Linked DNA regions of Homo sapiens: region 2 is linked to region 1. The links come from fine-mapping of genetic effects on gene expression. Tissue or cell type: whole blood. Region 1 holds a variant in brackets; the other region holds the start of a gene. All regions are shown on one strand. Distances are between the middles of the regions.

The links. PIP is the estimated chance that this variant, and not a neighbour inherited with it, causes the effect.
Region 2: CCDC71L starts here. The variant in region 1 is fine-mapped to the expression of CCDC71L in whole blood (TOPMed, PIP above 0.99).

The regions. Positions count from the first base shown.
Region 1 is chr7:106,337,100-106,345,027 of GRCh38, reverse strand. No RefSeq gene overlaps it. Among named protein-coding and RNA genes, the nearest start is that of NAMPT-AS1, 56 kb to the right of the region's middle. The variant C/T (reference allele first, on the strand shown) is at 3,486.
Region 2 is chr7:106,656,878-106,664,805 of GRCh38, reverse strand. CCDC71L (coiled-coil domain containing 71 like) reads left to right here and starts at 3,648. Exons shown (of 1, transcript NM_175884.6): 1 at 3,648-7,928. The coding sequence starts at 3,910. The coding sequence ends at 4,617. RefSeq lists a silencer at 4,205-4,474 and an enhancer at 4,825-4,874.

The DNA of each region.
Region 1 (7,928 bases):
GCTCTCAGAGTCCATGGGGAAGTGAGATCACTAGATAGAGGAAATCAGGAAGGGTGTCATAAGTGAGGTAGCACTTACCACAGATCTCAGGGAAGGGAAGCACTTCTATGGTCAACATGACAGGAAAACATTTAGAATGCAGAGAATACAATTTCTAAAAGCATGGAGGCAGAAATTTATGGAGCAGGTTAGAACAATAGTATGTGGTCCCATTTGGCTAAAGTATAGGTGACATGTAGCGGGGAAGGGAAAGGAATATTGTATTAATAAAGTGCCATGAAGCCTGAATGACAGCCGGAAGGCCTACAATGCTAAGATAAGGAGTTTGATTAAGTCGTGAGAGCTATTGGAGGTTTCTGAGCAGTAAGATGACATAACCTCATGAAAAGTATGAGATATGATTAATATAAACCCATCCCATATTGTGCCCCTTTGTAAGCTACCTGTACGGAAGAATGTGAATTGTTTCTGGCAGGATTTTTGTTGAATATATACCTTTTCTTTCATTTTCTCCAGTGAGCAGCAACACACCCTTGTAAGACAGCTGGTAGGGTTAGGAGTATTGCCTATGTCAGTGGAACGAGTTCCTCTGTCTCAGAACAGATGGAAAGCATCACAGAAGTAGGAACAGAATGAGGCCCACAGATGGCAGAGTGGTCAGGATTTGTCAAATTCTCATTAATGTATCAAACCCCCACATGGAAAAGCATAGATCCTTGTATAATCTTTGTGTGGTACTTCTGTCTGAAGAAACCCTATAAAAGCAAAAAATTACTCTCCCATGACATTACAGAAGGGAGCTGTTTGTAAAAGCGTTGGTTTCTTCAGAGGTTGGGGTCCACTGATGCCTGGCTCTAGCTTTCTCCTGCCAAGCTGCCTAATTTTGCAATTCCAGCTCAGGCTCAAATAAAACCATGCTCCAGGGTTGCCATCTTGAAGGAAGGAGACTTCATTCTGGAATCTTTGTGATGACATAGGTAAAGCACTAGAAAGGGTAGTAGATCCATGAAGAGACCAGAAGGATAAGTACAAGAAGACAGATATGCTTTACAAATAAGGACTCTCCAGGATGAGATACAGACTGTGAGCAGGCAGATAGAACATTACATAAACGTGAAGGAGATCATGGGATGGCCACCAACTCCTAAAGTGTTAGGATGAAGTGGACAGCTCTGAAAGCTTAAAAACTGCTAAAATTGATTAATTTTAAAAACTGTTGGTTTTACATTCTGTATGACTCAATATATGTAGGAATCTTGAGAAATATCAAGAAAACACAATGAAGAGATTAAGAGTAGAGAGGTTAGGAGCCACTGTGTCCTTGCCAAACAGGCAGAGTAGGAAAACAGGAAAATATTGAGGGAGGAATATAGGCATATACTACCCTGTCACAGTCAGGCTCTAGGATGCCTGCATGATCTTCACCTCTTACTATTCGTGATCATCTGAAGTCTCCTCCTACATTGAATCAGAGGTGGTCTGTGCAACCACTTGATGGAGAAGACCATGTTTAACTTCTGAGGATAGGTCATAAAAGTCACCACAGCTGTTGCTTTGTTCTGCTGGACCACTCTTTCTGGGAAGCCAGCTACCATACTGGAGGGAAGCTCAAGCAGCCCATTGGAGAAGAACCCATGAGAAATAGTGAAAGCCTCCCACCAATAGCAAGCACCAACTTGCCAGCCATGTGACTAAGCCAATTTTGAAGCCACTCCACCTCCAATCGAGCTTGCAAATTGTTACCACTGGAGGGTGTCCAGATTCTTAGTGTCTTGAACAAAGAATTGGACAAAATACACAAACAAAGCAAGGAAACAATGAAGCAACAAAAGCAGAGATTTTTTTAAAATGAAAGTACACTCCACAGGGTGGGAGCAGGAGCAAGCATAGGGTCTCAACAGTGCGATTACAGAATTTTCTGGGGCTTAAATACCCTCTAGAGATTTTCACTGGTTACTTGGTGTAAACCCTATGTAAATGAAGAGGATGAATTCAAGTTACAAAGTCATTTACTAGGTGTATGCCCTATGTAAATGAAGAGGATATTTCCTGTCATCACTGAAGTGTTTTCCTTTGATTTAGTTCTAATAAGTCCTTAGGTTCCCTGCCTCCAGGCCCTATTCTCCTGTCTTATTTCCCCCCAAAAGATGTGATCCCCATAAATCTTTATGGGAGGCAGAGGGACTGACGGTCTTTCTTCTGTAACTGCTTCATGCTGGCTCAGGGTGTAGTCCCTACCCATTGTGGATCACAGAACTCTTGTCCTGCTCTGTCTAATGGAGACAGGGTAGCTCCTTAATGACCAGGGGTGGTGTCTTCACCTGGAACTGACTGGAACCTTTGTCACATGATCATCTGAAGCTTGATGGTCTCTAGGAGAGAGGAAATGAATTTGGTTAAAAGATTTAATGGGAACTTCAGGAGGTAGATACTTATGCTCTCAGGAATGTTTGTTATAGAGATTTACAGGAGAAAAACAAAACCTCTTCTCTTCTAGGATCCATGTGTAATATGGTTTGACTGTGTCCCCACCCAAATCACATCTTGAATTCCCATGTGTTGTGGGAAGGACCCAGTGGGAGGTAATTGAATCATGGGGGCAGGTCTTTGTTGTGCTCTTCTTGTGATAGTAAGTCTCATGAAATCTGATAGTTTTATAAGGGGGAGTTTCCCTGCACAAGCTCTCACTTTGCCTGCTGCCATCCATGTAAGACATGACTTGCTCCTCCTTGCCTTCCACTATGACTGTGAGCCCTCCCCAGCCACGTGGAACTGTAAGTCCATTAAACCTCTCCGTCTTTTGTAAATTGCCCAATCTTGAGTATGTCTTTATCAGCAGTGTAAGAACAGACTAATATAGTAAATTGGTACCAGGAGTGGGGCACTGCTGAAAAGATACGTGAAGATGTGGAAGCAACTTTGGAACTGTGTAACAGGCAGAGGTTGAAACAGTTTGGAGGGCTCAGGAAAAGACAGGAAAATGTGGGAAAGTTTGGAACTTCCTAGAGACTTGTTGAATGACCTTGCCCATAATGCTGATAGTGATATGGACAAAAAAGCTCAGGTTGAGGTGGTTTCAGATGGAAATTAGGAACTTGTTGGGAACTGGAGGAAAGGTGACTCTAGCTATGTTTTAGCAAATAGACTGGTGGCATTTTGCCCCTGCTGTAGAGATTGGTGGAACTTTGAACTTCAGAGAGATGATTTAGAGTATCTGGCAGAAGAAATTTCTAAGCAACAAAGCATTCAAGAGGTCACTTGGGTGCTGTTAAATGCATTAAGTTTTATAAGGGAAGCAGAGCATAAGAGTTAAGAAAATTTGCAGCCTGAAAATGCAATAGACAAGAAAATCCAATTTCTCTGAGAAATTCAAGCCGGCTGCAGAAATTTGCATAAGTAACAAGGAGCCGAATGTTAATCCTCAAGACCCTGGGGAAAATGTCTCCAGGGCATGTCAGAGGTCTTCACAGCAGCCCCTCCCATCA[C/T]AGGCATGGAGACCTAGGAGTAAAAAATCATTTCATGGGCCAAGCCCAGTGTCCCTGTGCTGTGTGCATCCTGGGGACTTGGTGCCCTGCATCCCAGCCACTCCAGCCATGGCTGAAAGGGGCCAACATAGAGCTCAGGCCATGGCTGCAGAAGGCATGCTTGCATGCAGCCATCTTGCTTGTTGAGCCTATAAGTTGGTGGTGTTGAGCCTATGAGTGCCCAGAAGTCAAGAACTGGGGTTTGGGGACCTCCGCCTAGATTTCAGAGGATGTATGGAAATGTCTTGATGCTCAGAAATTTGCTGCAGGGGTGGGGCCCTCATGGAGAATCTCTGCTAGGGCAGTGCAGAAGGGAAATGTGGGGTCAGATCCCCCACACAGAGTCCCTACTGGGGCACCACCTAGTGGAGCTATGAGAAGAGAGTCACCATCCTCCAGACCCCAGAATGGTAGATCCACCAATAGTTTGCACCATGAGCCTGGAAAAGCTGCAGACACTCAATGCCATCCTGTGAAAGCATCTGGGAGGGAGGCTGTACCCTGCAAAACCACAAGGGGTGCAGCTGTCAAGACCATGGAAACCCACCTCTTGCATCAGCATGACCTGGATGTGAGACACGGGGTCAAAGGAGATCATTTTGGAGCTTTAAGATTTGATTACCCTGCTGGATTTTGGACTTGCATGGGACCTGTAGCCCATTTGTTTGGGCCAATTTCTCCCATTTGGAATGGTTGTATTTACCCAATGCTTATCCCCCATTGTATCTAGGAAGTAACTAACTTGCTTTTGATTTTAAAGTCTCACAGGCAGGAGGGACTTGCCTTGTCTCAGATGAAACTTTGGACTGTGGATTTTTGAGTTAATGTTGAAATGAGTTAACACTTTGGGGGACTGTTAGGAAGGCATAATTGGTTTTGAAATGTGAGGACATGAGATTTGGGAGGGGCTGGGGCGGAATGATATGGTTTGGCTGTGTCCTCACACAAATCTCATCTTGAATACCCACGTATTATGGGAGAGATCTGGTGGGAGGTAATTGAATCATGGGGGCAGGTCTTTCCCATGTTGTTCTCATGATAGTGAATAAGTCTCAAGAGCTCTTACAGTTTCATAAGGTGGAGTTTCCCTGCACAAGCTCTTGCTTTGCCTACTGCCATCCATATAAGATGTGACTTGCTCCTCCTTGCCTTCCACCATACTTGTGAGGCCTCCCCAGACACGTGGAACTGTAAATCCATTAAACCTCTCTTTCTTTTGTAAATTGCCCAGTCTCAGGTATATCTTTATCAGCAGTGTGAGAATGGACTAATACAATGTATCGCCTTAAAGTCTTAGCCCAAGCAACTCCATTTTGTTTGGTTTGATCTGATGAGGTCTAATGCATGAGCTCAGTCCAAAACAATGGCCTACCACAATTTTGTTTTTAAAAATTCCCCCCTTTTGGTCAGGTTCTCACTTAGGTGAGAGTATGATCAAAACTTAGAGCCTTAGTACCACTCTCAGTTACCATCATTTTGGGTTTCTGGTCTCAGCATGCCATTCATAGGTTACAGTGTCCTTGTGGTCACATATTTCATTCAGCTTTTGTCATTCCACTTGAAGAGAGACCATTTGACATTCTAGAGATGGCTGCATGCAAGCATGTAAAACCTTTGAGAGAATACAATGCACCAGGGAGACTATTATTATGACTATCAAAAGGATAATACCAAGAGTTTGAAGTATGTTCCTTATCCAGGGTCCCCATAAACCAAACCACCTAAAATCAAATAGATCAAAGAATGAGCTAGATAAGCAGTCTACTCACTTAACTAAACAGTCTCTTTGTTAATCCACTACAACTGAAACTCTATAATACCTGATGTTTTCCACCATAGGCCATGACTGCCAGCAGCTGCATAGATACTTTTCTCTTTGGCCAATTCTATTCTTTAGCATAACTTTCACAAGATAATTTAAAGTCTGTTGTGTAACTATAGACTTTACAGTAGAATCTGCTATAGAACCTATTGTGAGGGATACATTTTTAATCATTACCTCTTTTATTCCAAATCCTTCCAAATGGAAAATAGACCTAATAAATGATGCCCTTCTCTTATAGAAGAGTGAAGGCCTCCTGGGAATGTTCTTTTTAACCCATGAGTGGGTTAATAGGAGTGAACCAATCTTCTGTTTCTGACTGATTATGAGGCAACGTATGTAGCATTAAAGTTTCTCACCTACACTGGGTCTTCATCTTTTATCTATCAGAGTATAAGATTATCCATGTATAAGGCTGGCTGCAAAATCCTTCACAAATAAAAGTATACCCCATAAGTGCACAAAACAGATCCCTTTTTCATTTCTATTGTTCATAGAGGCATAAACAAAAAATATTCAAGGATAAGAGTCTCATGATAGTAGAAGTCTTAATCTGTGATCTTGGAAAAAGATGTTTACATCAAAGATGAATCTTCGTCCAGGGCAATCTTGGCTCACTGCAACCTCCACCTCCTGGGTTCAAGTGATTCTTCTGCCTCAGCCTCCCAAGTAGCTGGGACTAAAGGTGCATGCCACCACACCCAGCTAATTTTTTTGTATTTTTGGTAGAGATGGGGTTTCACCATATTGGCCAGACTGGGCTTGAACTCCTGACCTCATGATCTGCCCACCTCAGCCTCCCAAAGTGCTGGGATTACAGGTGTGAGCCACCACACCTGGCTGAACTTTTAATAATAAAAGCTTTAAGGACTTGAGAAGGACAAGGTGGCCATCCTCATTTTCCATGAATCCATGCTTAATGAACATTAGACTTATATGCTCTTGAATACCAGTTGTTTCACCAAATTAGGTGAATAACACTGGTAACTGATGGGTTATCATAGGTAATTTGACTTAGACCATGGAATTCATTCAAATTGTATATCTAAACAATTTCAGTAACAGCCGATTTAGCATAAAAATCTGGCAAAGTATTTTCTTGGTATTTAATTAATTTTTGTTCTACCTAGGTTAGCAGTTTTATAACCCAGTCAGTCTTTTCATTAAAGTTCCAGGAATTCTTACCCAGTTCAAATGATATGATTCTAAAGTTCTCAGAAACCTGTATTCAAGAGTGCTTTTTAGAGTCCTTTCCATCCTTTAATCAACTTCCTAAAAGACACCATATTCTAGGATTTTGTGTGCTTGTGACGTTTTCAGAAACTGCATCAGCATTAAACAATTAACTGTGGAAATAACTTTAAATAGTTACAGTTAAAAACACAATTGACAAGGAAATTTGGTTATTTCTGTGGTTTACAATCATTTAACATAATAACCATAATTATGATTGATGGCATATACTCAGACATCTTAGAATTTTAGAAATCCCATACAATTTTGGAAAATATATAATATCATTCACTAAACTATAACCTGAAGAAGACTAAATTTTTTAAGTTTTTGTCAATACTTCCCATGTAACTAAACGTGTCAAATGATTCTTCTCACCTCTCTTTTGGATGATTCAGGGGCCCTTCGCAGCATCTCAAAGTTAGAGGTCAGAAAAGACAATTTTGAAGCTGCAATTTGATTTTGGGAAGCCTATCAAATATGTTAGAGGCTTAAAACACTTGATATTATGAAATAGAACTCCAGGTTACCATAAGTCATTCATTTAGCCAAAATGATTATCAAAAAAACCTCTTTTTTAGGCAAAAACCTTCACTCATTGAAAGAGGGAAGACTTAGCTTTCCAAACAATCTGTCTCTTGTCTTTCCCTTCTTTTTTTGTTGGTAGTTTATTCAAAAGGCAAATAAAAATCTTTCAGTGTCTTTTAATATTACATGAAAATCTTGTTCAGGAGAGAAAGCCACATTTCACCCTTGCATTAGTGTACTATTAATGTCAACCCCAATTTTTAATAAAACCTTATAGACAAATCTTTCCGATCTTAATCAGTTTGACCATACAATGAGAATCTCATAAATCTTTTATAACCCTCTATAAATTTTTAGTAAAGAGCAGATCAGTGCTTTAAGAAAACCATGTTTGTGTTTTTATTTCAATGTTCAATTTACAGACAAACCAGAAAATAACCCTTTAAATTTAGTCAATATGTTCACACACATAATTTTTTACAAGATTAATTGTTTGCAAACCTTCCACAACCTGTTCAAACCTTTAGCTTTATTCTAACTTAAAACAATCTTTTAGCCCTTTAGGCACAACAAAAAAACCCACATTCCCATGCTTTCTTATAATCTTTTACCAAAAACATATTTCACTTTTCTTACATACCTTTCATGTAAAACTGTTTCTTCAGTAGGCTCAATTACATGTTACAATGCTAACTCTTGGCGACATTTACTTTTGGTGAAAACCTTGATAAGTTTGGGATTTTAATTATGTACTAGGGGTGGAGCCTAGGACCCACCCAGAAGTCCAGATAAGGTCTGACCCTTTCCAGCATCTAACTCCA
Region 2 (7,928 bases), 320 kb before region 1:
TTCTCTTCTCCATTTTTCAGAGTCTTCTTATGTATACTTTATATATAACATCCAAGGTTTTTAGTTGCAATTAGCGGGAAAAATAGGGAAAGTACAGGTATTCCTATAAGCAAAAGAAAGTCCTATCCTCTCAGTTTATATGGTCTTTATGTTTTTCACATTAAGCCGTTGCAGAGCATATCAGGGTTTGAGCTAACTTTTGTATAAAAATCTAAATTACTTTTAGAATAGGTCTAATGACAAGGCTGAGTTTTTTCTTGCTGAATCATGCTATATTTAACATCATTTAAGCCAGCAATTAATGCTATCTCCTTGGTTAAGTACAAAATGTAGAATGTTAGAAACAATTCTGAACTAGAGTTAGAGATCTACGTTCTAGCTCAGAATCTTCCACTGTACAGCTCTGTGACCTTAGGCAGATCTCTTGGCATCTCAGAATTCTCATCTGAATTAACAATGTTGGACTCATTAGATGATCTCTAAGTTTCTTCTAGCTGTAAAGTTTTTATTTTCCTCTCATCAATGCCACTACTTTAAAAAAATATGTAGACATTCTGTAATACAGGGCTTAAAATATATTGATTAAACCAAGTAAAATCCTCAAAAATAAATAAGACAAATAGGAATAGCTTTTATTGAATGCTGTGTTCCAGGCACTACAGTAAGTGTTTTATGAATATTCTCTCGTCCAGTTCTTAAAACTTTGAAGTTAGAAGTTATACTCATTTTATAGATGAGAATGCTGAGACTCAGAAAGGTGAAAAATGTGTCTAAGAATATTTTTTTGTAAAGATATAATTGACCCCAAGTTTATTTGATTCCAGAGCTGATGTTTGCAACCACTTATATAGATTTTCAAAATTTTTTTGGCCACTTTTCAAGAGGCAGATTATTTTATAGAAATTGGATTCTAAAGCAATACTTCTGGGTAGCTAAAAGATACATTTTATTTAATTTTTCCCATCACTTTATTCGGCTTGGATTTATTTTTTAACTACATAAATATTGAATACAGAAAGTAAATACATACAGCTTTTTTTTGTTTATTATTATTCATCACTTATTTAGCAGACATAGGAGGCATTATTACCCTTGAGAGGTAAAGGAATAAACTAAGGGTTGTAAAATATCGTTACTCAAGAGCAAAAATTTAATTTGCCAACTTTCCATAAACTTCATAGTATCTCAAGTCTCAGGAACTAGAAGAGATACATTATTTCTATGTGTAAATTTTGCTTATTTATGGAGAACAGATAAGGAACCATTTGCAAGACTATTAGAGTTAATTAAAAGGTGGAGGTCAAGAAAAAATTAAAAATAATAGAGGAAACAGAATAGAGCAAATAATGTCAAATTTAAATGTATACGATAACATAAGCACTTTATCATGATATTAGTTCCTAAAAGTATTTCATAAAAAATATTGTTTGGTTTTAAGTAAATTAAATGAGCATGCATTATAAAATGAACTCTTGAATACTTGGCAAGTTGAGATCTTATGTTTTCTTAGAACCAAAATTGTGTTTAAAAAAGGTTTATCTTCTTAATTGAAATAAGTTCTATACATTTATGTAAATGTCTGGAATATATTTATGTGGTAAAGACCCTGAAGAATTTATAAAATGATGATTATCAAGGAAGGGAGGGGATTCCAATATGAAAAGCCAGGTCTACTTTAATCCTTGTTTTATCCTTGCTTTTCATTATGAAGCCCCCCTAACTTTCTCATGGCTCACTCTAGATTTTGGGTATTCCAATGGAAATTATTCAAATTTCACTTTACTATGTGTCTCAGAATTACGGAAAGAGCAAATTGTGATGTAAAGAGTTGTTGCTATATCATTCCTTTATAAGGATTTAGGAAGCTGGTATTTGGCTCTGTAATCTTGTTCTGAGATCAGAGTGTGCTTTTCTAGGAAAATGATTTTCTATTCAGAAAGTTACCATGATTTTGCTAGAGAGCTGGTTCCTGGTTAGATGTTTTATTTTTGCCATAAGCCCATTGTGTGGAGTTTTATTTTTGCCATAAACTCATTGTGTGGTGAGAGCTTTCAAGAATTTGACATCTCTGGTGTAGAGCTTTCAAATTATTTATTTTAGGTTTTATTGAAACTGAACAAACAAAATATTATTCATAAATCTATTATAAGACAGAGAAAAACTGCTCAATTCTGGGTGGGGTGGAAGTAGGAATAGGGGTACAGCTCTGTCCTTCGTCATTCTACTTATGCATAAAGCATGTTCTATTGAATTCCTTAGAGTCTGGACAGCACAGTTTGAAAAACCTTCAGTGAAATACAAAGATCACTAGATTAGAAATCGAAGGATTTAGAATCCCAGTTCTGCTATCAGCCAGCTGTGTTACTGAACCTCTATGGTACAGATTTCCTCACCTGTTAAATAAGGAGAATGAACTAGGTCTCTTTCAGGTCAAATATTTGAGGAAACCATTAGCAACTACATGTAAATCACAAAACTCCTATACTTTATTTGTTCACTACTGCAAAATAAGATGTTTCCTGGGTAAAATCCACATGCCCACCTCAAAGTTCTAAGTGTCAGGAGATTTTTTCTTTTAACCTTAAGAAATTTAAAGGAGTTCTGTGAAAATTGCAATATAAAATATCTAATTGTCCTGTTCTAAGCAGTTTCAACATTTCTGACTCTATTTGGGATAATCGGTGGTATTTCATTGATTCATTCGGCAAACACATTGAGTGTCCACTACCTGACAGGAACTGAGTTAGGTATAGAGGACAGAAAAGATGACTAAAGGATGTCCACTACTCTCCTCCCAATACAAAAGGTAATGTGTTTTGAACAATTTGTGTTTTTCAACGAAACCTTATCTGTTGTCTGCGATGATGCATCCTTTCTAAATGATAGGGGTGGCTTTGACATTTTAAAACTAAATGAAAAACGAATTGGCATCCATAAAGAACTGTGTATTTAAAACTATATTTTCTTTTCACAGAATGGCTTTATTGTAATAGATCTTTGATCAACTTGAGCAAAGAGTATTTAGTTTTATAGGGTATGACATGTTTTGCTTTCTGGATAAGCAGGGTCTCTCTTAAATATGAAGATGGCTCCAGTGTCCAGAGGGAGACTAAAATCTCTCAGCTGCCAGCCACGCACATTACCTGAATGATTCTGGATTACTACTGGCTTCTTGAGATGGGCTGGGGTCAAGACAGGGAAGAGTTTTGAATGAAGATGCCAGAAGAGGCCTTTGAGAGGGTGGATGGGAATTGCGAAAGGCCCATTTCCCCTAGACTTAAACCCAAATTCCCTAGCTGTGATGATACCAGGAACATCCTTCAGGGAAATCTCCCTTTGTTATCCACACTGGTAGAGCTCCCAGCTCAATCCACAACTGCACACCCCCTCACTCTAAGAGTCACTCTTCCCATGGTGTAGCCAACATCCACCCTCTTACTCTAGACGTGGCAGCCCTCCTAGATCCACCCAACCGTTGACTTACGTTCAAAGGCCATCACCCACCCCAGCACCATCTTCCAGGAACTGGCCTCTCCCCCATCAGTCCCCGCCCCTCTTCTGAGAGCACCCAATGGGTGGAGTCGGGGCTGCGGTGGGAGGGGCCTGAGGCGGGCACATTTAAAGAAAGGCAGCCGGCGAAAAGAGGCAAGAGAGGAGAAGAAAGAGAAACCAGGGGGGCGAGGCGCCGTCCAATGACAAAGCCCAGGGGTGGGCGCCGGCCGCCATCTTGTACCGGGCAGCAGGATATTCGCCCGCGTCCTCCGCCCTCGGAGGGGGAGGGGCGGCGGCGGAGGCGAGAAAAGTAGCGAGAGACGCCAGCAGCAGCCGCCGCCGCGGAGCCAACGCGGACTGGGACGGCGGCGGCAGTAGTGGGACCCGGCGAGCGTGAGTGGCCCGGAGCGGCCTTCGATGCGGCGCAGTATGAAGAGGCGGCGGCGCCGGCGCCCGGTCGCCCCGGCCACGGCCGCCCGGGGCGGCGACTTTAGGGCAGAAGACGGGGCTGGGTTGGAGGCGCGGGAGGAGAAGGTGGTGTACTCGCGGTCGCAACTGTCGCTGGCTGACAGCACCAAGGCGCTGGGCGACGCCTTCAAGCTCTTCATGCCCCGCAGCACGGAGTTCATGAGCTCGGACGCGGAGCTCTGGAGCTTCCTCTGCAGCCTCAAGCACCAGTTCTCCCCGCACATCCTGCGCAGCAAGGACGTCTACGGCTACTCCTCCTGCCGGGCCCTGGTACCCGACCCCCCGGGGCCCCCTACAGCCCGCGGCCAGGCGCGCCGGCCGGTTCCGCGCGCAGCGGCCAGGAGGAGGCGCCGCGGAGCCCGGGCGGCCGCTGCCCGCAGGAGGAAGCCCCGGCCGCCACCCCCACCGCCGCCGCCCCCCGAGGAGAGCTGCCCGGCCAAGCCCGTGGCCCCCGGGCCCTGCTTCGGGGGCCGCACCTTGGAGGAGATCTGGAGGGCGGCCACCCCGACGCTGACCACCTTCCCCACCATCCGCGTCGGCAGCGACGTGTGGGGCGAGCGCAGCCTGGCGGCAGCGCGGCGCAGGGCGCGCCAGGTCCTGCGAGTGAACCTGGAACCCATGGTGAGGCTCCGCCGCTTCCCGGTGCCCCGGGCATGAGGTGCGGCCTCCAGGGCGCCTCCTGCCGGCCCCGACCTTGGGACAGGCCTTCCGCCCGGAGGAATGAACAAGTGTCAGTCGAGTGTTTACAGATCCGGCCAGGACCCCGGCCCCCAATGCACTTTACGCGCGAAGAAGTTGCCGGATGGTTGTCCCTGTCCCGGGCCGCGGCGCGGTCGTCTTGGACGCTGGGGCAGGTGTGCCCTCTGCTGCCTCCCGTACCCGGCCTGCGGAGGGAGGGGACAGCTGGACCCGCAGGGGAGGTCCCTTTCTTCCTGACCACCGATTGAGACGTCTCCAGGACCTTAGGGGCAGATCCGTTTTCTCACTGTTGGACTCTACCTCACTGGTCTGGAAGTCCTCCGAAGACATTATTTTTCCAAAGGAATTTGGTTTCGTGCTTGTGTAATAAAGCCAGAATTTACTTGTTCTTTATCTCCCCCTTTTTCTATTTCACTGTCACCCCTCTTTGTGGACAGAAGTTCGAACATGTGGTGTTGCACTAGTTTGTGCTCAGGGTATTCTGAAGCCCACTCGTTTCCTAATTTTTACTGGATTCCAAAGCTTTGATCGAGGATATTTTTTAAGAGGTTCAAGCTTGTGACTGTTAGTAGTGCAAGGATTTGTATGGGCTCAGTGATTACAAACAAAGACATGCAAAATACAACTGTTTAAACATTTTCAAGGTATTTTTAAAGGTTTTGTATTGAAACAATGTTTATATTTACTGAGCTCCTAAAAATGGTAGAATACACATGAAAACTTTTGTTTAGGAAAAGTTAACTTGTTAAATTCTTTTGAATTGAATAAAAAAATGCATTGAAACCATATGGTGTGTGATTAAAAAAAATGAATAAATTGTGAAGAACTGGTTTTGGTTACAGGAGTCACTGGAATCCGACTGGAGATGATTTGGCCCCCTGTCCTGGTCTAACATACAAATCTAGGAATATTATGCGTTAAAGTATTTTAAAATACATTATCCTTGTAATGTATTTTACAAGGATAATGTATTTTAAAATGGGAGTTGCATAGGAGAGATGGATGTGTGTAAACATTATCACTAAAATGATAAACAGAATACCCATTAGAATTCTTAGAACTATTAATGATCAAGAGGGGTGGAGGCATTTCTTGGTATCAAATAACTGGTTAAGGTTACTTTGGGCGAAATCTATTTCCTTTTTGTTTTTGTTGTTGGATAACAAGAAATGTCTAGACTAATATTCATCAGTTTTACAAACATAATGAAAATTAGTTGATTTTTAGTTGATTTTTTTGTCCCAACATTTTTTTTAACCTTTTTGCCACTCATTATATGTTTGCAGTTCTAGGTCTTTGACAGCTGAAGACCACAGGAATCAAACAGGCGAGACACACAGAATACTGACCCTTCTTTACGCTTTTATAGTGTTTATACCATATGGCCCAGTGTGGAATTCTTGATTATCCAAGTGCCTTTGGTCATTTGTGGCAGGAAAACTTAATAGTTTTTAGCCAGCAGTGCCACAGCCAGCTTTTACTGCAATACCTAAAGGGTCAAGTAGTGTTTTTGTACCACTATTATTTCAAATTTAAGTATTCTGCCATGAAACGATCCATACTGGGCTGGAACTTGACATGTGAAATCTTTAATACTAAAGCTTATCTCTGCTTGGCAGCTTTTTAGGAGAATAATGAGAGTTACAATTTTGACTCTTGCGTTCCTAGAATTCAAATGGCATAGCTTTCTGAAATGAGTATTTCAAGTTTAGTAGTCCGTATAGGAGTGTTGTGACTTCAATTTCAGTGTTCTTGTTAAAAGAAATAATATGATATATATATACACACATATATATAACTTGATGCCAGTTTTCTAGTAAGCCTCAGTCTTTTATTCACTACTCAATGATAATGCATTGTACAAACACTGTCACATGAGTAAATAAAAATGAATAATTCCTTAGAAGATGGAGAGTGTTAAATTATATTTGTGATAGGAAGCTTAGACATATCTTTTGGTTATTAGCTTCCATTGCCAATTGTATTTCAGATGCATAGGGTTTTCTTCCCAAAAATATATTGTTAACTTTTATAGCTAACTAGCACCTGGAAAAAATGTATTTGTACAACTTTACTATTGTATATAGTTTTATAATAATGAAAAATAAACCCAATGGCCATATTAGAATGCAATTTCGACATACAGCTTATCTAGATAGTTTTCCAGAGGATTTTGAAATTTGGCTTAACTGGGAGGATAACTGCTCAGCACACCACTGAAACATAACCACTGACACCATTCATTTATTTTAACTGAGATTCTTGACATTTTTCTCTCCTATGCCTTGTTACTTTAGCATACTTGAACTCACATAAATGCTTCTTTGGATTACATGGGCTATCTGATTCCATTTTGGATCTGATTGTCCATCTTGAATTCAATATGGTATTCATCTGGACTATTCAAAAATTATGCCATTTCTAGTCTGTGAAATAAGATGTAAAAAATCTTTATTTTTGCCCTTTGGTAAAAACCTATGTGACAACTTTTAAAATGTGAAGCAACATCTAATATAGTTGACTGGTATACTAATAGGAAAGTGAAAGTATTTCATGGGTACTTTGTCACAGAATGTGAAAAGAAACTTGGCATAGTGGCCTTTATAATGAGGCATCCACTTACTCCTCTGAAGTGAAGTCTGTAGCTTAGCTTGTGTATAGTTTTTGAAAGAAATCTCATGATCTTCGTTCATTCTCTTGCCTTCTCTTTTATCTCATATGGCACAAGTAGAGGGGGAAGCCAGGAGGAAATTCATCACCTCGCTATGCTTTTATTTGATTTTTAATTCCTGAGTGCCTAAATGTGGTGACCGGCACCTCACATAACTTTTTGAGATTCTTGATGTCATTTTTATCCTTCCTGTCAACCAGCAATGTATTTTTATGTTACTAAAACCAGTAACGTCATAATTGTTGAGGGCAAGCTTCATTGTTGATAGTGCAAAGTGTCGCTGTTGTGATGTGTGTTTATTTTATTCAAGTTTGAATATTGACAAGTGTAACTTAAGCTGGTGACTGACACCTATTGATCTGCTGTGTGCAAATGATAGTACTATTTTTTAGAAAACTCTTAAGTAAATTTTAAAAATATTTGAATACAAAATATCTGAGCAATTTTGAACTCAAAAGTTTTTCATTGTTTTAAGGATTGCCACAGGACTCTTTAATGGTTTTTAATGGACATACATGCCTAATATTTATTGGTGTGTTTAAAATATTTTTTGATAGAGTGTTATGTCTTAAGCGCATTAGAAAACAATTGTTTGTAA